4 separate regions of the Homo sapiens genome follow, and regions 1, 2 and 4 are each reported to be linked to region 3. Evidence: microRNA targets listed by miRTarBase, many of them from high-throughput screens and not tested one by one. Region 3 holds a microRNA gene; each other region holds the end of a gene's coding sequence.

The links. The annotated mature microRNA hsa-miR-6830-5p reads CCAAGGAAGGAGGCUGGACAUC and lies in region 3 at 3,369-3,390, opposite strand. An mRNA with a match to its seed (bases 2 to 7 or 8) in the 3' UTR can be bound and repressed. Matches are read on the target gene's strand: a 7mer-m8 pairs with bases 2 to 8, a 7mer-A1 pairs with bases 2 to 7 and ends in A, and an 8mer does both.
Region 1: miRTarBase lists NAA40 as a target of hsa-miR-6830-5p. Seed matches in the 3' UTR shown: 7mer-A1 at 2,424-2,430.
Region 2: miRTarBase lists HOXA1 as a target of hsa-miR-6830-5p. Seed matches in the 3' UTR shown: 7mer-A1 at 6,022-6,028.
Region 4: the mRNA of RAPGEF1 is a reported target of hsa-miR-6830-5p. Seed matches in the 3' UTR shown: 7mer-A1 at 927-933 and 7mer-m8 at 295-301.

What each region holds. Positions count from the first base shown.
Region 1 is chr11:63,951,784-63,959,615 of GRCh38, reverse strand. It overlaps NAA40 (N-alpha-acetyltransferase 40, NatD catalytic subunit), which reads right to left. Exons shown (of 8, transcript NM_024771.4): 4 at 7,283-7,378; 5 at 7,051-7,209; 6 at 6,777-6,860; 7 at 5,567-5,644; 8 at 2,297-5,278. The coding sequence ends at 5,137. Among named protein-coding and RNA genes, the nearest start is that of NAA40, 17 kb to the right of the region's middle.
Region 2 is chr7:27,088,025-27,094,897 of GRCh38, forward strand. It overlaps HOXA1 (homeobox A1), which reads right to left. Exons shown (of 2, transcript NM_005522.5): 2 at 4,969-6,771. The coding sequence ends at 6,416. Among named protein-coding and RNA genes, the nearest start is that of HOXA1, 4.5 kb to the right of the region's middle. RefSeq lists enhancers at 3,564-4,474, 6,063-6,563, 6,564-6,873.
Region 3 is chr5:132,214,524-132,222,355 of GRCh38, forward strand. It overlaps MIR6830 (microRNA 6830), which reads right to left and starts at 3,395; the gene lies at 3,326-3,395. It overlaps P4HA2 (prolyl 4-hydroxylase subunit alpha 2), which reads right to left. Exons shown (of 15, transcript NM_001017974.2): 2 at 4,022-4,121; 3 at 3,229-3,325; 4 at 2,674-2,825. The coding sequence starts at 4,103.
Region 4 is chr9:131,576,725-131,579,724 of GRCh38, forward strand. It overlaps RAPGEF1 (Rap guanine nucleotide exchange factor 1), which reads right to left. Exons shown (of 27, transcript NM_001377935.1): 27 at 51-2,923. The coding sequence ends at 2,773. Among named protein-coding and RNA genes, the nearest start is that of PRRT1B, 33 kb to the left of the region's middle. RefSeq lists enhancers at 2,215-2,264, 2,295-2,424, 2,625-2,704.

The DNA of each region.
Region 1 (7,832 bases), not on the chromosome of region 3:
CCTGCCTCAGCCTCCCAAAGGGCTGGGATAACAGGTGTGAGCCACTGTGTCCAACCTAATTTTTTGAGACGGAGTCTCACTGTCACCAGGCTGGAGCACAATGGCGTGATCTCGGCTCACTGCAACCTCCGCCTCCCAGGTTCAAGCGATTCTCCTGTCTCAGCCTCCCAAGTAGCTGGGAACACAGGCATGCGCCACCAAGCCCAGCTAATTTTTATGTTTTTAGTAAAGACGGGATTTCACCCTGTTGGCCAGGATGGTCTCGATCTCCTGACCTCGTGATCCACCCGCCTCGGCCTCCCAAAGTGCTGGGATTACAGGAGTGAGCCACCGCGCCCAGCCTAATTTTTTTATTTTTAGTAGAGACAGGGCTTCACCATGTTGCCCAGGTTGGTCTCGAACTTCTGGCCTCAAGTGATCTGCCTGCCTAGGCCTCCCAAAGTGCTGAGATTACAGGCGTAAGACACAATGACTGCAATTTTTTTTTTTTTTTTTAAGAACAGGGTCTTGTTTGCTCTGTCACTCAGGCTGGAGTGCAGTGGCACAATCATAGCTCACTGCAGCCTCAGACTCCTAGGCTCAGGCAATCCTCCCGCCTCAGACTCTCAAGTAGCTGGGATTATAGGTGCCTGCCACCAGGCCCAACTAATCAAAAAATATATTTTTTTAGAGACAGGGTCTCACTATGTTGCCCAGCCTGGTCTCAAACTCCTGGCCTAAAGCAATCCTCCCACCTCAGCTTCCCAAAGTGCTGGGGCTCTAGGCGTGAGCCATGGCGCTGGCAATTTATCCTTAGATTGGGAGTAACACCACCACATTAGTTCACCAGGCTCCACAGCAACACATCCCCTCTCCCCAGACCCCGTCTGTCCTCAGGGGTATAGAACAACCTCTGCTGCACTTGGGGAGGGAGTATTCTAGCCAAAACTAGAAAAGCCTGCCCCCTAGTTTGAACTACCTTCAAAGCTGGCGGCAGAAACCATCTGGTGAGTGGCGTCCCTCCCGCTGGGGACATAGTCCCTTTCAGTCCAGCCCAGGCTCTGGACTGTCTACTGCTCAGCGGTGGTGCCTCTTGCTCCGCCTGCCCACTGAAGCTGTGGCAGCAGCATGGGGCAGACCCAGAAGTCACACCACACCTCACTGAAGCAGCCACTGTGGAGGGCCCAGGCCATTGTGAAGGTGGAGAAGGAGGAGGAATGGGTGCAGACCTCAACTCTCCCTGCACTCAGCCGGCAGGGATGAAGGAATGGCCCCAAGCTCTCCAACTGTGGCCATTCACCCTTCAGCAAGGGGATGGCCATTCCAGGAAGTTTCTGCCTGGGATGAAAACACAGCCTTCAAGGAACAAATAACTTGAGGGGCAGAATTCTGTCACATGGGAAACTGGCCATGTGATTCGCCAGGCAAATTGCTCTCCCTTCCCAAGGGCTGTGCTGCCTTTCTTTGGGCCTCAAAGATAAGACAGCTGCACAAACCACCTGCGGGTGTGCCCCTGCCCACAGGGGAGAGGCCACAACATGCCACAGCTGGGACCCACGGAACAGGTATAACCCTGGCTCCTCTTTCCCCAGATGCTTGCTCTGCCAGGGCACGAACACTCCATGTGGATCAGGGTCTCCTGCTCCCCGTTCCAGCAGATGCAGACCACCAAGCAGAGTACAATGGGGCAGCCCCTCCACTGTCCACAGAAAGTACTGAGCTCCAGCTCCCCCGGGCCAGGGCTGGCAGGAGCCCTGCTTGGGGAACAACCTGCACAGCTCCATCTGTCACACTAGGGGGTCACAGCCTCCACCAGCTCATAACTCTCCTGCCCCAGCAGCCCTGACATGAGCTCCCCTTCCTTGGAGCCTTGTCTTCTGTGAATGGATGGAAGAGGGCAGGAATCTTAAGAGACAAAGAATATTTTGAGTAACCCAATGAAGTCAAAGAGGAAAGAAGCACTCTCGTCTATTCACCTCCCACACATGGGCACTGGAATTTACGTTTGGACACAGATTTCAAATGTCACAAGGCCTGGCTTGGGACTTTCTCTCCAAGATGCAAAGCAGGCGCCCTTCAGAACACCTTTGGCCTCTACTCAGAACTCCTGGGAAGTGGCACAAACACATACATTTGGTCTCTGTTCCCAGCTCTGGCTGCTTGCCCCGGACAGCCTGAGTTTTTTCTCCAGCATGGGGCTATCATAGCTATGCACCTCCTGATGTTCGGGCCCAATGTTGGGACAGGCTCAGGGTCCAGAGCTTCCCAGATCCACGCTGCCCATGGTGCCCCAGCATCAGGAAGCCATCTCAGCAGCTGACCAAAGTGTCTTTTATTTGTGACATACAAATACAACCAATGCAAGAAGAGATCACTTTTTCCCTTTGATTCCAGTGATAACAAGCTGCTAAAGAAAAAAAAAAATATATATATATATATATATATCAAGGAGTTTATCTTCCAAATTTCCTCTTAAAAAAAAATTAAAAAGAACCATTCACATGTCCTATACATACTTGACACCAACAAAAATAACCTGAAATAGGGTGGATATAACTAAAATTTTAAAAATCTTAAAAAAATCTTAACATGCTCCAAACAAACAAACAAAACACAAAAAGCCTGGTAAAAAAGGCCTGCTATGTTTCTCTTTTTTTTTTTTTTGAGATGGAGTCTCACTCTGTCGCCTAGGCTGGAGTGCAATGGCGTGATCTCAGCTCACCACAACCTCCACCTCCTGGGTTCAAGCGAGTCTCCTGCCTCAGCCTCCCGAGTAGCTGGGATTACAGGCCACAACCACGCCTGGCTGATTTTTGTATTTTTTAGTAGAGATGGGCTTTTGCCATGTTGACCAGGCTGGTCTTGAACTCCTGACCTCAGGTGACCCGCCTGCCTCAGCCTCCCAAAGTGCTGGGATTACAGGTGTAAGCCACCGCACTCAGCCATGCCTGCTGTTTCTCAAAACCAAGACCTGGGGGAAGTGGAGAAAGATGGATGTTTTGGAAATGAATGGGCTCAAGACCAACAAGAGTGATTGCAGGTCTCAGATAGTGCCTCTCCCACCCTAGTCCCGACCTCCTGAGGAACCCTTCAGGACATGGCCTGCAGAGACTAGGGTGAGCAGGGTATGGCACCAAGCACCCATTGACCAGTTGGTGCCACGTATCCAGTGACTGGAAAGAGACAACGTAGACTGAACTCACCTTACAAGGGATGAACACGGGGGGGTCCCTTTTGGTCCCCTTGAGTGAGAGGTATCAGGAATCCATGATCTAAGACAATAAATATTTAGCATCTGTGTCCTTTCAGAGACAGGGACCAGAGACAAATCTCTTCCTAAACATGCTCCTGTGGTTTCATGATTCTTAGGAGTCCACCAAACCCCTCCAGCAATGTCAACTCTGCCTGGGATGAAACCCACCAGGAGCCAGCAGGGTGAGGCAGAGGCAGAGGCAGACTTATTCCAGTGTAAAGCTGCAAGGCCCTCTCTAAGGAGTTCCCAGTCCCACTGCTGCCCATCAAGAGCAGCGCAAAGTGCTCAGCAGAGGGGCCAGGCTGGGTGAGGGAGGCCCTGTGTACACAGGCTCCTGCACAAGCAGGAATCCAGGTGAGAAGCAAGGACCACTCTGGGGAGATCTGCCAGGAGAGACTGCCAGAGTTGGGCAGAGGGTGGGATGTGAGCAGATGCTGAGGTCAGAGGGACCAACAGACCTCCACGAGAACAACTTCACGAAGGCTAGAACCTTTATGATACTCCCCACAGCAGAGCTCAGGGATATCCAAAGGGAGCTGTTAGGTGCTTTTTCCTTGATAAGGATTTGGCTTTTCTTCCCTGGAAGAGGAACAAGGCCTAGAGATCAGGATGAGCATTAGTTCTGAGCCTGCCTTTCTATCCTATGAGAGAAGAGGAAGGCTTTCTCCTTCCCCTGCTCCAGCCTGTTGCCACAGGGTGACACCAGAGAGAAAAGCAACTGTTGGCCACTGAGAGGCATTTCTGCTGCAGCCTGAGCTATGGCCCGGCTGGGCCACGGCAGTGGCACTAGTGCCTCACTGAGGCAGCGAGGGGCAAGCCTGAGGAGTGCAGGCAGAGGGGCCTGCTGCTGGCTGGGGGCTCTCTGAAGAGGGAGGGTGGCTGTGGGGAGGTGTGCCCTACCCTTAGAGAGCTATCAGCACCAAGATAGGAAAATCAATGGAGTTAACTACATGAGGAACGAGAAGTCCTTCTGGGGAAGATGAGGGGCTCCCTGATGTTATTCTCCCCTTGAGACTAAGAACAGAGGTATTTGGGGTAGAGGTGAGAGGCAGAGGAGAAAGAACGACGAGGGCTGGCAGACAAGAACAAGCAGAACCTCTGGCTTTCTTCTATGAATCAAAAGCTCAAGTCACTGCCATGAGACCAGGAGGTTAAGCTTAGAATGCAGCAACATCCAGGAGCCTAGAGAAGCAATCATCCCCATGGCGGGTCCCAAGAACACCTCATTGTTGGTCCTTTCAGGCTCTCTGACAGCGATGGAGAGGCAGTCTTCCTCCCAGAGTCAGCTGGTCCCAACATGAGCCCACTCCATGAATCCATAAAAACAGCTGGAAAGAGCTTTCTTCATTTCCCTGCATCTTGGCACAAAAGATCTTCCCAGTCTCCGTTAACAGCAATTCCAACTGCGCAAGCGTGAGTCTCTCTGAAGCCGCCCTCTACACCCAGATCTTACACCCAGTGTGTTCCTCTTTGGGGACCAGCAAACCCCAGACCCAGGACTCCAGAACTTTCATAAAGGTGGACATAAACATTCCATTTGTCCAAGTGTGTATGTGTCAGGGGAGGGGAGGTTGCCAGGAATCTAGGGGCTGCAGAGGTGCGAGAACCTCCACTGCAGGCCCCAGGAGCCAAATGAGGAGGCAGCCACTGTGGAGGATGAGCTTCACTGCCCGGCCCCACCTACTCTTCCCTCTCCCTTTCATTCCCTTCTAGCACTCTGGTCTCCTAGGAGAGGAGGAGCAGCTGATACCACTTCTCCCCAGGGTTCTGTGCTCTCAGGGCGCAGCCTGGCACGTGCAGGGCTGGGGAGGCCACAGCTCTGAGGACACCCGGTGAACAGTGAGACCAGGAAAGAGGAAAGGCCTTAGGAGAGAGCATTGTGACTTGAAAGTGGCTCTGAGAGTTCAGTGGCAGCAGCCACCACAGTGCCCACCCGCGTGGGAGTGATGGCTGTCCCCAAACTTGGTCCTCCGGCTCAGGATCTCATAGGAGCAATCCTCCCCACAGCAACCGGACATGCTGGGGGAAGAGTCATCAATTTCAAATCTGCAAGGCAGGCAGGAGAAAAGGGTTGGTGGCAGGCAGCTGAGTGCCTTCCTCCCTGGCCCGAGAACTCTTCTACCAGCCACACTGATGAGACCCTTAGGATGAGGGTGCAGGAGGTGGACAGTGGACCAAATCAGAGAGCACTGCCATACCATCTCCCTGAACCTGAACCCCCATGGACCACTGGACCATGAGCTCAGGCATCAGAATGAGTGAGGGCCAGGACCAGAAAAATGGCCCTGGGCAGGCCCACCTACCACCCAGAAGGGCCCACACCCAGCTCCTTACTGCAACGCTTCTCTGAAGAACTGGTAGGCACCATGATTGTGTTTAAATACTGTTAACATAACCTTCTTCATCTGTGTGCTGGAAGAAAGCAGAGCAAACGCCTTTTAGAAAGAGAAACATGGCCAGGCATGGTGGCATGCACCTGTAATCCCAGCACTTTGAGGGGCAAAGGTGGGAGGATCATTTGAGCCCAGGAGTTAGAGACCAGCCTGGAAAACATAGTGGGACCCCATTTCTACAAAACATTTAAAAATTTAAAAAAATCAGCCCAGTATAGTGGCATGTGCCTTTAGTCCCAGCTACTCCAGAGGCTGAGGCTAGAGGATCACTTGAGCCTGGGAGGTAGAGGCTGCAGTGAGATACGATCACACCACTGCACTCCAGCCTGGGTGACAGGGTGAGACCCTGTCTCAAAAAAGAAAAGACACAGAGACTAAGGTCATGCTTCCTTTCCTTTCTGCCTTTGTCTGTTACCTCCCTTTCACCCACACGAGTGTTCCTGAATTTGGCCTCTAGCCTCTGGAGGTCTTGGACCCCCACACAGCACTCACTGCTTCCCCCATCACAGGCTGATCAGACTGCACAGGCATCGGCCCTGACCAGACTGGCTTCTTCCAGAGCAAGGATGTTTCCCACTTCCTCTCTGTAGCACCATTACTTCGGTACAGAAGGTGGCAGAGATTAGAAACTCAAAAGATGCTCACTGGCCAGGTGTGGTGGCTCATGCCTGTAATCCCAGCACTTTGGGAGGCTGAGGTAGGTAGATCACCTGAGGTCAGGAGTTCGAGACCAGCCTTAACATGGAGAAACCCCGTCTCTACTAAAAATACAAAAATTAGCCAGGCATGGCAGTGCGCGCCTGTAATCCCAGCCACTTGGGAGGCTGAGCAGAAGAATTGCTTAAACCCGGTACGTGGAGGCTGCAGTGAGCCAAGATGGCACCATTGCACTCCAGCCCGGGCAACAAGAGTGAAACTCTGTCTCAAAAAAAAAAAAAAAAAAAAGATGTTCACTGCACTGAGCTAAACAAACAAAATCTGGAGTCATAATAAGGCAGGGAGCATCTTACTGAGAGGGTTCTAAGACACCTTTCTCCCAAAACATGCCTATGAGCCTCCTCCTCCAACAAGGCTCAAAGAATGGCAAGTGCCTCAGTGACAGCTCCTTCCAACTGAGTGCTATATGGGCCTCCTAAGAAGGGAGGCCTTACCTGTTGGCCATGAGCTGCAGGATCTGTATGAGGAACTTCCCCAGGCCTTTCCGCCGCACCTTGCTTTCCAACTGCACTTCATAGCTAGGTGAAGAAAGCAGAGAGGTGAGCGTGCAGGATGGGACATGAAGAGGCTGTAAGGTCTGGCAGAGGAGCTTGCAGTCCTTGGCAGCTCATAGACCTAGGTAGGTCCAGGGGCTTTGTCACCTGGCTGGAGTGCCTGGAACATCGCCAGGGTCTCTCTCCCCTACCTCCCCCAAGCCATGGCTCCTACCAGTACAGGACTTCATCCCCACACTCCACGTCAAACCGGAAGTGAGAAAAGGCAACAGGGACGGAGCTGTTTTCCCACGCGATGAGGTACCAGGCTCGGTCATCTGTCATTTCCTCCCGTTTCTCTCGGTCCTTCCAGCCCCACTCGCTCTGCTCATACCTGGGGAATTTGGGAGCAGTCAGACGGGAAAGCTGCGAGAGGAACTAGGCTCCCCTGGTTGGGACAAGCTTACATGGTTTGCATATTCGTTTTGGTCAGGTCGAAGGCCCAATCCACGGTGGCTGGCTCCAGTCCAGACACTCGCTTACATTCAATGGAGACATTCAACCTGAGAAGAGGACAGGACGTGTACGGAATTGGTTACAGCACTCCTGCCAGGGCACTGCTGTTCCTCCCTCAGAATCACAGGGAGGAAGGCCCAGTCTCAGTTACTGCACAGAGAAAAGCCAACCCTGTATCTGCCCCAGCATGACTAGAGAAGGTGCAGGAACAAAGTCTTTCAGGCTGAGATTAACAACTGTGGCCACACGGCCCACCCCCCAACCACAAGGCCCGTTTCCTGCCTCCCCAAGCTGTCCTAATCCGCCTCGGCACTTTGTAAACTTCTTGTCCCTCTCTGCTCTCTCTTTATTCTTTTTCTACCTTTTCTGTCTCTTCTGTACTTTGTTATAAACACTCATGTCTTCTGTTATTTAGTTCCTGCCCTTAGGCATTTTTCCTGTTGCTGTAATTTCTGAGCTGACTCCTCACTAGGCTCCCATGGGACCCCATTCCTCTTATCT
Region 2 (6,873 bases), not on the chromosome of region 3:
GGGGACCTGTCCGGACTCACTTTCCCTTCCCTCCGAAACCACCCACCGACGCGGGCCGGGAAACGCTCAGGCCCAAGATGGGCTCTGAGCGCGAACCAGGGAAGAGCCCGGATGCTGCTCCTTTCCCGCCCCGGACCGGCGCAGGTCCATCCAGAGGCGCGAAGCCTGCAGGCCAGGGAAGAGCCCGGATGCTGCTCCCTTCGTGCTCTGCCTGGGGCCCAGGAAGCAGGAGAAACGGAACGGCGACGTTGGGTCAAGAACTCAGAGGGTGAAGGCTGGGAAGCCAAGGAAGGAAAGCCGTCCTGACCTCGGCGTCGGGGCTCCTCTACAACCCCGCAGGGTCGCGAAGGTCCTGCGGCATCTCCTCTCGCAGTTGCCGCAGCCTAGCCGGCCGGGGGCAGGCGCTGGTGCCCCCCGCCCGCTCCCCGCAGCCCCAGCAGAGCCGGAGTTCCCGCGGCCGCCGCTGCCCGAGCGACTCGATCGCCCGAGCCGACCTCTTCCCAAGCCTTGGACAGCTGACCCCTGCGCATCCTAAAGGAAAGACCCCATCTGTTCCTCAGAATGGGAAAATTCCCGTGCATACTTTGCCAGAACCGTGTTGCTGATATTTCGGGGGTTGGGGTTACCATTTTAAATCGTGGCTTTCTGCATTCTTGTTACGGTTCTGTGGCGACTTAGAACGAAGTGGGTCGTAAATCGTAAAATTGTCCAACGCGGCTAAAACGTGTCCCAGTTTGAAAAGAAAAGTCGCTCAATAATTTTTCTTTTATTTTCTGTTGCAAGCATTTGTGTATTTTTTCCCAACCGATTAACCACACAAGCCTAAATGAAAATATAAAAAATCTGATTTCTATAGATTAACCTTGTGATTAGACGTTTTACCAACAGGTTTTTAATACAAGAGTAAAATGTAATGGGCTGATTAAAAATAGAGACACGTGTTTTAGTTGTGTTTGAACATGTTGCAAAAAGAGACATTGGTCTTTTCATTTTTTCCAGTAAACTCAAAATGCAGTCATTTAAGGATGTTTTGCAGGATATGATGAGGGTTTAGAGTTGCCTAAGGAAAAAAAAAAAAGGTGTTTAGAGGCTAGCGCCTACTGAACATACTTGTTTAATTGATATTTTGTTTGTAGTTCTGCTATCAAAGGTCAGCTAGCTGTATTTGATGGCTGGTGCTATTAAAAATAAGGCACTAAAACGCTGAGGATTCCAGCTCACCTCTTCAAACACTGACAACCATTGATGTCCCTTTGGGCATCAGGTTCTGCTGAGATCAGTAGGACCCCATGGGGATGAGATGGAGGAGAATGTGGAAAGTTGTATTGCAAGGAGACTTTATGTTAATAGTTTGGGCTTGGGTGTGTGTGTGTGTGTTAGGTACATGAGTGAGTCTTGGAAAAAATTAAGATATGTGAGTCAGAACAATTTAGAAGGTATGCTGCGCCACAAACTAGCCAGAAAAAGCAAACACATTTTTAAAAGGTTCAGAGTTAGAACCCCTCCTGGAATGTCCCTTGCATCTTGAAGCCCCTTCTAGATGATACTTCTTGACAATTTAATGGAGGTCGAATTTGTGTGTAGGCAACTCCTCTTTCATTTATTCTTTCCCATCCAAGTTTAAAAACAAAACAGAAATATATGTGTGTGTGTTGAATTTTACTTGCCCTCCAGATTTTTATTTTTATATTTTAAGAACATATGTATTTAAAGGTAAGTAGCACATTTTATTATTCAAACAAGATGGCAGAAGCATTCAACTCAGAGGTTGTTTCAAAGATTCGGTATTCCTAATGGCCTCAAAGTCAAGGACTTGACTGAGTGGGTGGCCAGTAAAGCAGAAATGGAAAAATAAATCATATCTAGTCTGAAACAAATTACATGGAATAAATCAGGGAGGGACAAAATTGAATCAGGACTTTAGAATTTAAAAGTGCACTGGACTCAGGTTCTAAGCTGCCCTGTTTTTTTATTTAGGAAGTAAGAGTATGGATACTGACTGTGCTCTCAGTCAAACCAATCCACCTCTGGGTGCCTTTTTCTGATCCATAGAGTGAGAGATTAGGGATGTGGGTCCCATTCAATTCTGGTCATTTAGGCACAAGGAGTCCTAAGGCAGAATTTTTGTGTGTTCTCACAAATGCAGGCACAAAGGGGACTTATCTAAGGCAGAGGGTCACCAAAGTTGACCAGTGACTAGCTTATCCCAATAGTGGCATGCTAACTAAAGGGTGTTCTTGTATGTACTGAAAAAGCCATAGCGTTTCTTTTACAGCCCCATCCAATATAAAGAAAGATGTTGTTCATGCACTAATTTCAGTATTTTTAAGCACAGGAGTTGCCTGTCTCTCAAAATAAATTAAAGCCTGAAATGCCTAGAGCTTCTGCTTTAAGAATGATTATTCTTAAGGAGGAAACACAAACAGCAGTGACCATTTTTCACAGACGTGCTCAGCCATCAGGAAAGCTTAATAAATCCCTATTTAGTATGCATTTATGCAGTGATTACATGAACTTTGACCTCTGAAGAGCTGTAGCAATTAGCTTCAGTGTCTAGCATCTTCTACTCACCATTCCCCACTGGCTTCCTTGTGTCTTCCTTTTTCATCTCTCAATACTTCATGCATTAAGAAGGCGTAAAATTTAAAAGTTGACTTTCCACCTGAGGTATTTGCTTCTGCGCAAGCCAATTCTCCCTCCCCCCTTTCCCACTCAACAGCCATCTCAGATGGATATTGGGGCTCTGATTGTCAATATTACTCAAACACAAATGGATTTCAATTCAATCTTGCCCTGTACTTTCACAAAGATAAACTCTAATGGCCCAAAGAGCTTCATTTCATAGCTTGTGGCATCTGAAATAAATCAGATATCTTCTGTCAGACTAATTTAACATTTTAACAATATTTGATGTGATTTATTTAAAGTCAAATGAAACTGAATGGATTGGCAGAAAACTAGAGGAGGGGGCAGGAGAAGGGCAGCTGGAAGCTTCCAAAAAACAAAAAACAAAAAAGAAAAAAAGGAAGAAAAGAAAAGAACCAAGAGGGGAGAGGAAAGTGTTTTAAGTTTCTAGTAAACATTGTTTAGCAAAAGAATAATAGGAAAGTTGCCCCTTTTCCAAAGAGGGATGGAACTATAATTGTTGCCTTTAGTTGAGAGCTCAGATAAACTGCTGGGACTCATTCTAAAGTGACCCATCACTGCATTCATCTCTTCTTGAACTTTCGGTGAACCTGAGATTAAACAGGGGTGAGCAGCTAAGCAGTTTGTTGTTAGCAGCCTTTTCAACAACCCTTTCAGACTGAGTAAATATTGATCGGTTTGAATCTGATTGCCCCAGAGGAAAACACCACCGCATTTGAATAGCCTCCAAAAGTAAACTTTAAAAGGTGAAACCCAGAGCAGACTTCAGAGCCAAAGCAAGACCTCAACTCAGCCTAGTTTGGGAACACTCTGTATTTGGGGAGTACTGTGGATAAATGTAGAGGAAGTGAGGAAAAAAACATTGGAAAACTAGAATTTTGTATCGCAGTTATCCCAGGTGCCTAACTGAGACCCTTGTTTCCTTTGTAAATGTATCAATAAAATGTTATTTTCAGTTTTCCCACTCTGTGTTGTTTCAGTTACCATTGCTGTCATTTTTCAAGTAGCTAACTGTGCTCCTTAGAGACCAAAGCAGAGAGACCTTGAAATAGGATGTGTTAAGCGCCTTTGATTTAATCGATTGAGACAGCTAAAAAGATACAAATGTTTTCCTTGTTGAAAGGTGTATTAATGTTTCCTAAATGCATTGCTTGTTAACTGATTTATTCCATGACCTAGAGAAAGCTAGAGATGGTTAGCCATAATTTATTGTTCTCTCTTGCTGCTACATTAAAACCAGCATCTTAAAGACTGGAATCTCTGGGATTCCAGTGGATCTCGCCCTGCTTTTAGATATTGAAATGGAGTCAATGGCATGCAAATGACACTTTAACACATTAAAGTATTTGGAAGCCAGCCATCTGTTTTGCTGTGTGGCCCTACACTAATAAACAAAAGATACAGTATAAGGCCAGGCAGGAAATGAAAGAAAGGGTTGACCGTCTTTGAAGTTCTTCTCCATCCACTTGAGTCTTTTACAGGCAACCTCAGAACCCAGCAGCTGAGGGGAGGGCACCCGGTGCCCTTGATATGGCCGCAGCAACTGCACCGCAAAGTTCAGCCTTCTCTTCTTTGACAGGGAAGTGCAGGAATTCTCACAAGTGCCCTAGACGGCCTGCAAATTCCAAATTTTTGTAGGGTTTTTCTCCTCCAGCCCGTCCTTTGTAAAACACCCTTTGGGGAGGAAGGAAGTCATCTGTCTGTGTTTGTTTTCAATGCTGTAAATTTTCTGCTGTACTGTTGGGCTAAATAAAATGCCTCCAAAAATGTGTGAAAGTAAAGGAAAGCAATAAAGAGGCCTGGGAGGAGAGCCACTTTGAACTCTATCATTTGCTGGCTTCCTCTTTTGAGAGCAGATACATACCTTGGTCAGAAACAACTTGGATATTGAAAGACTTCAGGGTAGCTTCCACAAGTTCACCTGGAAGTACCTGTGGAGCCCAGAGAAGAAAATGACTTTTTTTTTCTGGGTTATGTGGCATGGAATTAGAACTGTGGATCCTTTACAGCCATGACGGCTATGAAATCAAAGCTGAGTCTGAAGGGAATAAGATGTGCAACCCAGAGATGGGGAAGAAGGGGTGAAGAGCCGCAGGAAGGGATGGATGTTGACAGGAAGAATGGGGGAAGGGATGCAAGGGTTTACTAAAAACACTCCATTTCAAGGGTGGAATATATCAGAACTCTGCCTGACAATCCAAAAAGAAGGAAGAGGAGTGGAATAAGGGCCCCATCCTCACAACAACTTTATACTGGAGCTAATTAAATGTGAATCTCTTAGCTCTTGGTTCACTGATGTGAGGAAAGACTGACTGAAGACAGTTTTGGCTTTTGAAGGGAGTTCTGTTTATATATACGTCAACATCCAGTTGGAGGTGAAAAGGTTAGCACTTGACCCAGGAAGTATCCATGTTTGTTTCAAAAATAAATCTGCTTCATAAATTTCTTCATCAGTCTTTTTTTCCATTATGAGCTTTGATTATAATAAAGGAGCTGTTATTAACTTTTATTCAAGAAAAGGCCCATCTCTTTGAAAATATTTACCACCCTTCTCCCTTTCCCCTCATGAAATGTGCCAACTTCATAGGAATTAACAAATTGTAGCCCAGCCAAATACACGGATGCTTAAGCATACCTGAAACTTGAGTATATTTATTTATTACAGACATCCTAAGACCCGTAAACTCTGCTCTGGATCATATCACTCCAGGATCTCAGAGCTGTTCATGATTGTACAGGAAATGGGGAATATCATAGGCTCACAAAGGATAACTGATAGAACTCAGTGTGGTACTTTGGGGACATCAAACATTGTGCGACATGCAAAAGACTATTCACGAATAACACAAAATATACATTCATTGTGCCATCCATCACATTAACAATTGAGCTGAAAATACATTATATCCAGCTAAGATAACTGTGGAAGGAAGAAATTGGTTTGAATAATACTTTTAGGTTCTGAATAACCCAGCACAAATTTTAAACAGAGGGTGGCCCGAGAAGAAAGGGGTAGAGATTGGGAAAGACTTAGCACAGGAAGCCGGGTTTCTGAAGTTTGTGCTCTGCAGGGCTTCTTAACTGTAAGAACAAATCAAGGCTACCCTCTGAGGCATCTGATTGGGTTTAAATGAGGGAATTTTTTCTTTCACCTATAAAATTGTACCAGTTTAGAGAGTTTGCCCACCCTGTTTTAGTAACCTAAACATTTCTAGAAAATCTGTATAAAGATAAATCTCTTAGGACAAAGTATTTACAACCAGCAAACTCACACACATGAAAATGACTTAAATTAAGGGATGAATTAATTGTGTAAACATATAGTGCATCTCTTCTTCCTGAGCTCCTGGACTCGCCTTTCGCTATATCCTACTTTCAAGGACAAGGGAGGGGAGAGCTGTACATATAGTTAGATAAAAGATGAGAAGATTCCTTCTGGCATGTTTCTGTTGGCAAAGGGAACTATTTTCCAAAAGGTCATCTGAAAGGAACAGTAGGTTCTGTGAATTCTCCTAAAAGCAGGAGGGATGTTAAGGCCCACCAGAAAATGTATGCTGGCACCCAATCTGGATGAAGGTGTTAACCCCGCACCAAGTCTCTGGTCCAGAATTATCTGCAAATATATTATCCTGGCCAGGAGCTCCCCAGATAGGATTAGAAAGGAAGAAAGAGACTGTAAATGGAAAGAAAGATAAGCTAAGCATGTGCTTTGGGTAAGAAGTCCCAGCCCAAGGAGATGCCTGGGCTGTTGTCTGGGGCTGGAGCCGCCTCAGTGGGAGGTAGTCAGAGTGTCTGAGGTAGAAGACCCCGGGGAAGGAACGCAGGGCGAAGAGCTGGACTTCTCTGAGGATTCCTCGGCCTTCTCGTCGTTTCCTGGCGGGGTGGCCGGAGAGATGGGCAAGAGACCCTCCTTCTCACGTTTCTTTTGCTTCATTCGGCGGTTCTGGAACCAGATCTTCACTTGGGTCTCGTTGAGCTGCAGGGATGCAGCGATCTCCACCCTGCGGGCGCGCGTCAGGTACTTGTTGAAGTGGAACTCCTTCTCCAGTTCCGTGAGCTGCTTGGTAGTGAAGTTGGTGCGCACCGCGTTGGGTTGACCCAGGTAGCCGTACTCTCCAACTTTCCCTGGGGCAAAGTGGGAAGCCATGAGACGGAAATGTAAAAATTTTTAAATCGACTTGAGATTCCCCACACGCTTCATGGCAACACTCAGGTAAAGAAAAGATC
Region 3 (7,832 bases):
TTCAAGTTGAGGAGTCCAAGGGACAATGACAGTTAACTAATGAAGCCGAGCTGGCCACTCATTACTGACCACTGGCACTTATCATCCAGAAAGGTGATGATGAAAGTCCTGGAAGTCATCCCCCTCCCCCTAGGTTGACAGCTGAAGGACCACCTAGACAGGCCAAGGACCAAGGTGGGGTTGCACCAACCCAGCAAGGTCCGTCCCCTAAGAGACCACGGTGGGCCTGTTCTCCTCTGTACTCCCACCACTCAGACCTTCAATGAGTTCAGGGCATGGGCTCTCCAGTTATGGTGCTCAAGACCACAGCCTGAAGCGTGGGAGAGCTTTTGACCACAGAAGTACTCCAAGGAGGCTTTTCTGGGACTCCAAGCCCTAGCTGTAAAGTAAGATGTGTACCTCCTACAATCCCAGGTGGGAGCCAAGCCTTCCCAGGCTGACTTAGGGCCTTCAATTCTGCCTCTAAGCTGAGAAGTGAGAGGGGAACAACAAGGCCATTCCTTCCCCAACCTCTTCCCAAGAGTAGCTGTATCCACTGCCACCTATGACTTCAGACCTAAACATCCACTTCAGCCATAACTGGGGACAGGGACCAAGAAGCTGTAACCCTGCCTTCCTTGTCTTCATAGCTACATGGTCAGGGACTCTAAAGAGTTTAGAATCTGGTGGGGTGGGAGTAGGGGAACATGCTGCCAGGAAAAGCCACACTGTCAGCATGCCCTGCTCGTTTCAGGGGCAAGAACTCAAAGTCAGAGATGAAAACAACCAATTATTCTCTGGGCCTGCCCTATCTCCTTCCAGGTAATCATAAGGTTTTCCAAAGGAACCAGATGATGGTGGGAGTGTAGGGTGTGGAGAACAAGATTGGAGAGAGGAGGTCATCTGGGTAGGCTTAGTCTCCTGCCGTGCAGGCAGAACAGCCTGTCCCGAGCTGCAGGCCCAGGCGGAGAGGCGGGAGTCTGGGAAAGGCAGCCGTGGTTTCTGGAGGCAGTGAGCTCACTGGGCACAGCTCCAGCCTGGCTGAGCTCACCAATCCCTCTCCAGAGGCCACCCTGCCCCCAGGCCCAACCCAGTCTGGCCACATGGGCTAAAATGTCTCAGCCAGAGAGACAGCTAGTCTGAAGTTAATCAGCACTCACAGCTCAGGGAAAAGAGGCAGTGAAGAGCTGGGTACAATGGCACTGTGCCTATAGTCCCAGCTACTCAGGAGGCTGAGGCAGGAGGATCACGTGAGGCCAGGAGTCCAAGGTTGCAGTGTGCTACAATCGCACCTGTGAATAGCCACTGCACTCCAGTCTAGGCTAATATAGTGAGACCCTGTCCCTTTAAAAAAAAAAAAAAAAAAAAAAAAAAAGGCAGCGGGCATGGTGGCTCACACCTGTAATCCCAGCACTTTGGGAGGTGGAGATGGGTGGATCACGAGGTCAAGAGATCAAGAACATCCTAGCCAACATGGTGAAACCCTGTCTCTACTAAAAATACCAAAAAAAAATTAGCTGGGCATGGTGGCATGTGCCTATAGTCCCAGCTAGTCAGGAGGCTGAGGCAGAAGAATTGCTTGAACCCGGAGGCAGAGGTTGCAGTGAGCCGAGATCCCGCCACTACACTCCAGCCTGGTGACAGAGTGAGACTCAGTCTCAAAAAAAAAAAAAAAAAAAAAAAAAGTCAGTGAGTCCAGGGGACTAAACCCAGGGCTAGGAGTTAGGAGAGCCCACCTCCAGGCCCACCGTACCATCTCTTCTTATTGACAGAAAAGTATTAGGGCATAAAAAGTATTATCACAATAAAAGCACCAAGTATAGTTTAAAGCTTTTAAAAAGTTCACACTCTCATCGGTAATATCACTTCTAGGAACTTACCCTAAAAAAGTAATCAGAAGTATACACCAAGAAATATGTAAAAAGGTGCTGATAATTCAGAAAAAATCCCATATCCAATGACTTGACCCATTTGACAGTATTATCAGTATGACAGATTATCACCATCTGACAGGTAATCACCATCCAGCCATTAAAATCATGTTGCAGAAGAACATTGAATGGCATATAAAGAAGCTGAGAAATTCACAGAATTTTTTCTTCTGTCACAAATCTACCAACAGATATGCTTTGTTTGTAAAACATATGAATAGGAATGAATTTAGATCAGACCTATGCTCCCCAACTTGCCCTGGCCCCACCATCCAGCCCACTTGACACTTGTAAATTCATTGTCCCTCCAAGCAACTGAGTTTGCATGCCCTGGTATGTATGTATAGTTCCATTTTTTAAATGTATATGCATAGGTAGAAAAACTACAATTTTAATAATGCTCACCACTGGGCAACTGGATTAAGAATTATAATTCTCTTGTTTTTGTGTTTTCCGACTTTTCTATAAACATGTATCACTAAAGTATAATTGGAAAAATGTCATTAGCAAAAAATAAGAAAAGACAGACACTAAAAAAAAGACGCTAAAAAAAGAACTGAACATCATTACATGTTAAAAACCAAGGCCAGCCAACTTCCAGGTCCCCACAGAGAAGGGAGAGAGCCATGAGACCAGCAGGGTCCTGTTTCCACAATGTACTTGCCCACCAACACCCAGACCCAAGACAGGCTCAGACACAACAACCCAGGCATGAGCACACAAACATATGGGCTCACTCAAGCACCTGCTCACCGTCCCTCACCTGCAGCTGAGTCCTGCAGGACAAGGTCCTCCAGCGCAGGCCAGTCTGTGTTTAGCCGCTTCACCAGTTTGTAGGCATTCACAGGGTGAGCCAGGTAGCCCTCAGCATCAGCAGCTGACTTGCTAGTCAAGGCTTCCATTTTGTTGGCCCAGCTGTGGAACCAGAGGAAAAGGAAGACTAATGCGTCCACCCACATAGGTCTTGACCTGTGACAATTTTCCTAGTGAGAATTCCCTGGTGCCAGGTTCTGGGGCCCTTTTCATCAAGAGGCAATGAAAAATGAATACAGTAACTCCCCACAGATACTTCTAGCCCCTTAATCTAGATAACAGCTGGGACCCCCAATGTAAGGGAAAAGGTCTTAAATAGAAAATAAACAGTGACTCCTTAGCCCATGTACTTAGCTCCTCTCAAGCACTGGCATGAAGTAACCAGGCCAGCCCCACATCACCCTCTCAAAGGTTTCCTCTTATAGGCACCCTGGATGGCTTCCTTGTTCCTTGAGGGGCAGAAGGGAAGGAAGGCCAACTAAGGATGGTTGGGGACTTAGGACACCTCTTAATCTTGGAAAGCTTGGCTTCCTCCACAAGGATGTACTCTTTCAGAGACTGCACCAGCTCTTTCTCTGCATAAATCAGGTCAGTCATGTGCCCTGCAAGGGAGAGAAGAAAGACACCAGTGAGAAACAGATGAGGGATGTCCAGCCTCCTTCCTTGGGGCACAGAATACCAGCACAGAAGCAAGTCCCCTGGGATAAGAACATGTCAGCTCTCTGAGGATTATGGGGACTTGGAGTTAAAGGGGGCCTAGGCACTCATGGGGCTCTATCTCGCAACTTCAGGAAGAAAGAGGCAGAGGCACCAAGGGGATGTTTGAGATAAGTGCACTGGATGTCACTCAAGAAGCAGCCCTAAATCTCATTCTCCGACTGTTACATAGCTGGTCATGACACTGGGGCATGGATATCCTGGGGGCTCACCACAGGATAAAAAGCTCTGAACTTTAGGTCGGAAGGATAGGAAAAGCTTGATCCTCAGGATACAAAGGATTTGCTGCTCAGAACCACTCTCTGGTCCATGGGCAAGGTGGTCAAAAAGACCAGAGAGCCCAAGTGCAGCCTGCACTTCCCAGGAAGAAAGACCCAATTCAGACATCTGGCTCCCTGAACATCCAGATCATTGGGATCTTATAGGGGAAAACAGCAACTCTGCCAGTTCCACTCTCCTCAGAACTGGCCAAAACCAGTAGTTAAGGCTATCCCACTCTAAATGAGAACAGGCTGCAGCCAGAGACATCCGTGGCATGTGAGCCAAGGTGTCAGGGAGACGACAGTCCTGTTGGCACGTACCAATAGAGGTGAAGAATTCGGCCTGCACACAGCTCAGGACACCAAACCAGGCCATCAGCAATGCAGACACCCAGAGTTTCATGGTCACAGAGGGAAGTGTCTGAAAGGCATTCAATGACAATCACTGGATCAACAAAGTGAAAAAGACTAATTTAGGTGAGGAGACACATAGGCATGTACACACATATGCAGATAATCAAACATATCAAAATCCTGGCCTAGCACACAGAAGCTAAAAAGGACAAACAGCAGAAAGAACAAAGAGCGTGCAGCCAGTGATGTGTGCTCAATTCTGGTCCCTGCTCTGGGAAGTCACGTGCCCTGCGGAGAGAGCCCATCCTCTCAACTCCCAGCAACCACCTGTACCATGAGAAGGCGGAATCGCAGTGGGGTACAGTCAGCTCGGGTTCCAATGGTCTGTCAGTCCAAGATTCTGGCCCACTCCTTCTTATTTCACAGACTGCTGTTTGTTTCTATCTTACCTTCCAACACATATGCCAGGACAGTGCCAGGTTTTGGGGAACCAGTCCCTGCCCACAAGGAGGCAACAGTACATGAGAGACAATAACAGAAAGATAATTTGACACAATATCCTCCAGAGTACCAACACCCAAACTAAGGTGTACAACAGATGGCCAGCCAGAAGAGGAATAAAACTAACCCTTGTCAGTCTGCACCTGCCAGAGAAAGAGCAGTCAGAGGAGACAGTCTCCTAGGTAGACAGTGTTCTTCCTGTAGTAAGGCTCCTTGGCAGACACTGTTCTCACTGGCCCGTCACCATTCATTCACAAATATTTACTGAAGACCTGCAGATGCCAGGCACTGATCTAGGCACTCAGGATACAAAAATGAATATGGCACACATGGCCAAAACCTCAGGCTGGGCTGCTGACATGGGAAAGGGGCCAGCTACTGTCTTCTCATCAGCCCAGAAATAGGCACAACCTGAGACAAACCCCACTGGCAGTAAACCTCAGTCCACAACAGAAGCCTCCGATACCGTCTCCCAGCTCAGCCATGCAGCCTAGACTGTGCTGGAGGATTAGCACCCATCTGTACCCCAGCTCTGCCGGTCTTCTTCCTGCCCTGCTTTTGAGCACCCCACTGGAGTGCTCAAATGGAAATTCACTAAGACAAAGCAAGCAAAACAAAGGAAATACAAATGCTTTCCCAAAAAAACATAAGCCTTATCTGACAGAATTCTAAGTCTAAGATAATGCCAGTTCATCAGTTTTTTGCCCGCCATACTTGATTAGACACACAGCACACCCACCATTCCTCATCTTACTCTTTCAGAAGAAATCCTAATCCATTGAGATTCCAGGTTAGGCTCAGAGAAGGCCAACCACAACTCCCATCTGCAAATGGATCCTCTATCAGAAGGAAAGCATAAGTGAATGGCGCCATGTGTTCATGCCTATGCCAAATGTCTGCAGAGCTGACAGTCTTCCTGTCATAGTCTAGGTGTGGGGGTCCCAAGACACACAGGACAATTATCTTCCAACCTGGAACCTGCTGCAGGGTAGGGCGTATTGTGCTAAGGGGTCCATTAGGGAGTTAGAGCAGCAGAAGAGAGCAAGTCATCAAGAGAAAGTGAGTAAGCCTGGGCTTGCCCTGAGGCAGAGTCCAGGCCCTCCTGGTTCTAGCCACAGGTCTGCTCCAAGGCCTTACTATACTGTCTTCTCTATCCCAGGATTTCAGAAGGCTTCTCTCTTGCTTACACAAGCCCCTTATACCTAAGGGATTGGGTGTCTGTTTCTTGTTCCTCAAAAGGCTTGACTGGCTCAGGCTCAGCACCTTCTGTATGTATGTAGGGAGGGGACAGTGAAAACATAGAGCTGGGAGGATGTATCTGTGATCAGAAAGGGACCAGCTGACTGCTCCTCAGAGCTGGGGTGGTGGGAGAACAGGGCCCAGGCAGGTTCCAAACCAGACATGGTTGGAAGTGGGGAACCCAGCATCTCTACCCAGGTGTGTCTCCAGTTGCAGTTGCATACCTTTTTAGAGGCCAGATAAATTCCAGGGAGGAAGTCTGTCCATTCCTTTCAAATCATTCTGCTCCTATCATCTACGGTTCATACCTCACAACACTCAGGGAAAGCCAGGTTTCTTCATTACATGAATACCAGCTGTGATTTCTCTGGAATGTGCGATCTGGCTTAGACTGAGCCCATTCTTGAATCTCAGCCTGGAGGCAGAGCCTCAAAGAATCACAGATAGGGTTTGGGCAGAGCCTCAAAGAATCACAGATGGGGTTTGGGCAGAGCCTCAAAGAATCACAGGTAATTACAGATGACTTACCTACCAAGAGCCTGCAAAGTCTTGCTCTGGTGGGAGAAGGGGATAACTAACTCTGCTAGCCTGGAGAGCTGGGCACCTCCAAGCAGCAGCTCCCAGACTACCACATCAACACTGACATCTCTGGCAGGGGTACTCTGGAGCCCTACCCCATTTCTCCCAAGCCTGGGCCCCTTAACTCAAAAGGCTCTGTACAAAAAGTCCTCTAATTAGAGTCAGATTGGGAGGAGGCAGCATCCGAGAGGGACTGTGCCCCACAATGTGGGAAAGGCCAACCTCCAACCCATCTCATAACTATGCCCACAGCTTGCTTAAGACAGAGTAGGTGAAAGTATGTGTACCTGCTGAGTGCCCCTACAAAGTGTCCAGTGCTGCTAAAAGCCCTCCCAGAAACCCTCAGAATCCAACTGGAATAAGTCTGGAGGTGAACAATGTCAAACCCACTTTTATGAAAAACAAAGTGACATCTTGAGCAGAAAACCAATACTGAGTTTTATCTGTGCTGCATCCCCAGAGTTTAGAACAATGTCTGTCCCATACCAGGAACACAACAAAAAATACTTCACCACAGACTTGTTCAAATTAGGAAACTACAACAATAGAAGATTTTACATTTCTTCTATACAATGAGTTTTTATGGAGTATATTAAAAATGAATACTATATATCAACATGAAGAGATCTAAGCATACTGTTAAGTGAGAAAAGTGGGCCCCAATAATATGCACTCTATAATTCCATTTTTGTAAGGAAAAATTAATGTATATGTGTATATAGAGAGATGCAAGAAAAGAGTCATACATCTGGCTATATCTTGGTGAAATAATTTCTTTTTATTTTTATGCTTGTTTCTCTAATCTTTCTACAAGAAATTCTATAGCAATTTTTAAAATTATTTTATCATATGCTTAAAATGTAAAGAAAACAAAGCAGGCCCTTCTCAAACAGACTCCAAACGGGCCCTGCCAGCCCTAGTGTTTGGACCCCCACAGGAAAGTCCTGCAAAACCTGCCAACATCCCAGCAACAGTGATTCACCCATCAGGCGACTGGCACTGTTTCTAAACACAGGGCAATTCCAAGACATACAACCAGAGGTCCCACCAAACCTGAACTTTGGAAAAGACATTTACAATCTGGCCAAATGGCCATGAAAAGATGTTTCCAGCTGCAAACCAGCAGCGTCCTTAGCTTCTCTCCTTACCTCATCAGGCAGAATCTCTGCCAAGCTCCCAGCTGCAACCCAAATGCAACAGCCTGAGTTTTAACAATGTATTTAACAGCCTAGAGACAGAACATGAGCTTGCTGAGAACAAACTGGTCTTGCTTGGCACTGAACAAGAACCTGCCTGCCTTCTGTGAAGGGGGAAAACCTAACTGGACACGGCTCCCCGCTGCCTCCAACTCTAGGATAACAGGGCTGAAAGGACCTGTGTGTTCAGCCTAAGAGGATCCAGAGGCTCCAGGAGACCCTGCCACCAAAGCACATGGATGTCCATTCAGGCCTATAAGCTG
Region 4 (3,000 bases), not on the chromosome of region 3:
GCTGGGCTGTCACTGTAGTTGCACACATGCAGCTGGGCGCGGACATGGCATTGGGCAGCTTTCATCTGTGTTTATTTTTTTTCATATAAAAGTTACATGTTTGAAATGTCTGCAGGAAGATGCCACCATCAGACAGGTTAGCTGGGGCATATATATTACAATGTAACCCTGTGGAGGTCGTGGGGCCGGAGCGGGAAGATGCTCCCCAGAATCGGGTTCAGGTCAGACATGGTGTGTGCCTGCCCCTCCTTGCCCCCCCACACCCCGACACCTGCAGGTGAGGACTGACCTCTGCAAGGAACGAGTCCTCCGCCTGGCTCACGTCTGTCTGTGAAGACTGATTCCCACAACCCGCCCGGGCCCCCCAAAGGAACAGACGAGCCACGGCCAGGCCGCAGCACTGAGCACAGAGCTCAGCAATAACCAGGGCCAGGCTTAGGGGGCACAGGGGGCTGCCTGCCATCAATAAGTTAGACATACATCGCACCTTGCCGTCCTCACGCAGGGAGCCCCTGGGCACTGCTCATGTGCTGCCTGGGCCCTGCTGCTCAGAACACCAAGGGCTCCCAGTGAGGGCCTGGGGAATTGCCTGGGCACACTGGGGCCAGGCACAGGGTCTGTTCTGAATTCAGGGAAGGTGAAGAGACCCCACCTCTATCCAGCTCAAGCCCAAGAACAAGGCAGACAGAGCTGTGGACAGCACCCGACCACAGACACGGTTCTGCCTGCTGCTGGAGTGAGAGGCCTGGTTTCTGAGGCTGCAGCATGGCACTGGCATTGCCTGTGCTACAGATGGGGACTCCTGCGAGTCTCACAAATACAGGGAGAATTTCAGTTCACACAACCCAAGGGCCCTGTGTGCAGAGCGGCCCTCACACGCGCACAGCAGCATTCAACAGAGCTGGGCAAGGGAAGGGGAGAGAGAGTCAAGGATTGAAATGAAGGGACTTCAAAAAGAAGGAACAAACTAAAAACCCAACCCACACACAATACTGTTAATAAGCCAGCGACTCTACACACACACTCCTTAAATAATAAAGTGACAGGTCCCGGCTGGCCCCGCAAGACCACCGCAAGAGGGGGTCCCGCCACCAGAGGGGGTCCCGCCTGCCACTGCACGGCTTTCCTCCCTCTATCTACAGGACAAACAAAACACGGGAGAGGGGAAAAAGCCCACATTTTCTTCTTGATAAATGCTGTTCAAAAACCCATGAAGGACTCAAAGTGACATGGTGGTTTAAAAAAAAACCTAAATGATCAACAGATGTTGCTTTCTATATTTTTCCTTTGTTCTGTTTGAACTGGGCTAAGTAAGCACAGTTAGACCCTGCTGTTCACTTGACCACGTCCTAAACCCGGGACAAGTGAGCACTCATTCATGCACAGCAGACCCGGAGGCATGGGCTGGGGCAGCACAACTGGGTTCCCGCAGCGCCCTGCCTGCAGGCTCATGCTGGAGGCCACGGAACCAGGCGGCACAGGGCAGATTCTGTTTGTCAAGCGCCCCACAAGCCTTGCCCAGATTGTCAAGCTCAGCAGCGAGAATGGTTTTGACGAGGAGGATGGAAACAGCATCTGCTCTGGAAGCCGCTCTGGCGTGGGGAGAGTGGGGAGAGGGTGCGCTTGCTGCAGCTGCTGCCTTAGGAGGCTCCTCTGTGGCCAGGCTTCTGCCTCCCTGCACCCTGAGGGACCATTCGGGTGCCTCAGGGATGCCCTTCCCTCCCAGGGGCACTGACAGCACTGGCTGAAAGGTCTGAAGAGCCAGAGGAGGAGCCCTGCTGGCTGGCCCAGGATGGGGCAAGGAGGGAGGGAAAGCCAGGGGATGGGGAGGGACATGAGATGGAGTTTAAGGCACACAGCGAGCGATGGAGGAGGGAGGTGCTGGCCTCTCCCCTCTGAATTAACTCCCCCAGGAGCTCAGCTCTGGCCTCAGTTTGGTGAGGTTCAGAAGACTCCCAGCAATAAAAAGTATTTCTTGGATGATCAAGTCCTCCCTTACTCCAGCCTCCTCTTCTCAGCTCCCCAGGTGGTGTGGGAGGGGCCCAGTGGCCTGGGGTGGGGGGTAAGGGGCGACGGGATGACAGAGACTGCTGCTGCTCTCAGGCGGGCAAGGGAGGCCCTGATGGCGCCAGTACCGCGGGGCAGAGCACCAGCTGCGGGGCTGCTAAGGCGTCACCTGCGTACCTTTCCGGGCCTGCTGAAAAGCTCACACCATCCTCCATGCATCAGAAGGGGAAGCGGAAAGTGAAAGGATCCTCCCCCGAGTCTACTCTGCATTCTGCCCACCCAGCTGCTTGCCCCCATTCCAGGGCCCCTGCAGGACAGGCCACCCCAGGAGGCCTCCACTCATTTGAGATTTCAGAAGATTCAGGGACCCTGGAGCTTAGGGAGGGGGAGCACCCACCACTTCCTTGGTCTGCTGATGAGGTCTCTGCTGCTCTCTCCCTGGAGGGGAGTGGGTGGAAGGTCAAGAGGGGAGAGATGGAAGTAAAAGCAGAAAACAAAACCAAACCAGAAAACCACCGGTTTGTAAATTGGCAACAAGACCTGCCTGCTGGCTGCCCTGAGGCCCACGGGTCTGCTCCCACAGAGGAAGGAGGCAGGAAGCGGCTGGCAGGCTCCAGCTCCCGCCCGGCCCCGCTGAGGGCTGGCCAGCCTCATGGCTCCGAGGCCGGGACTCCTGCCATGCGCCTAACAGGTCCAAGGTCCTCTCCGGTCTGGGAGCTGCCCTCTGCGCCCCTCGAGCATTCTCCTGGATCCCGGCGTCTGCTCCTAGGTCTTCTCTTCCCGGTCTGTTTTTCTCCTTGTTATGTTCCTGGGTTTAATTTTCAGAGACAGTTCCCATAGGGCCTCCTCAGCCAGGTGGTCACTGAAGTCATTGAAGAAGTTTATAATGTCGTCGTTCCTCCGCATGTCATAGTGCCTGGTGCAGGGGATGGGGAGCAGTCAGTGAGCACCTGTGTGGGCTGGATGGCCCGATGGCGCCACCCTCCTGGAAGG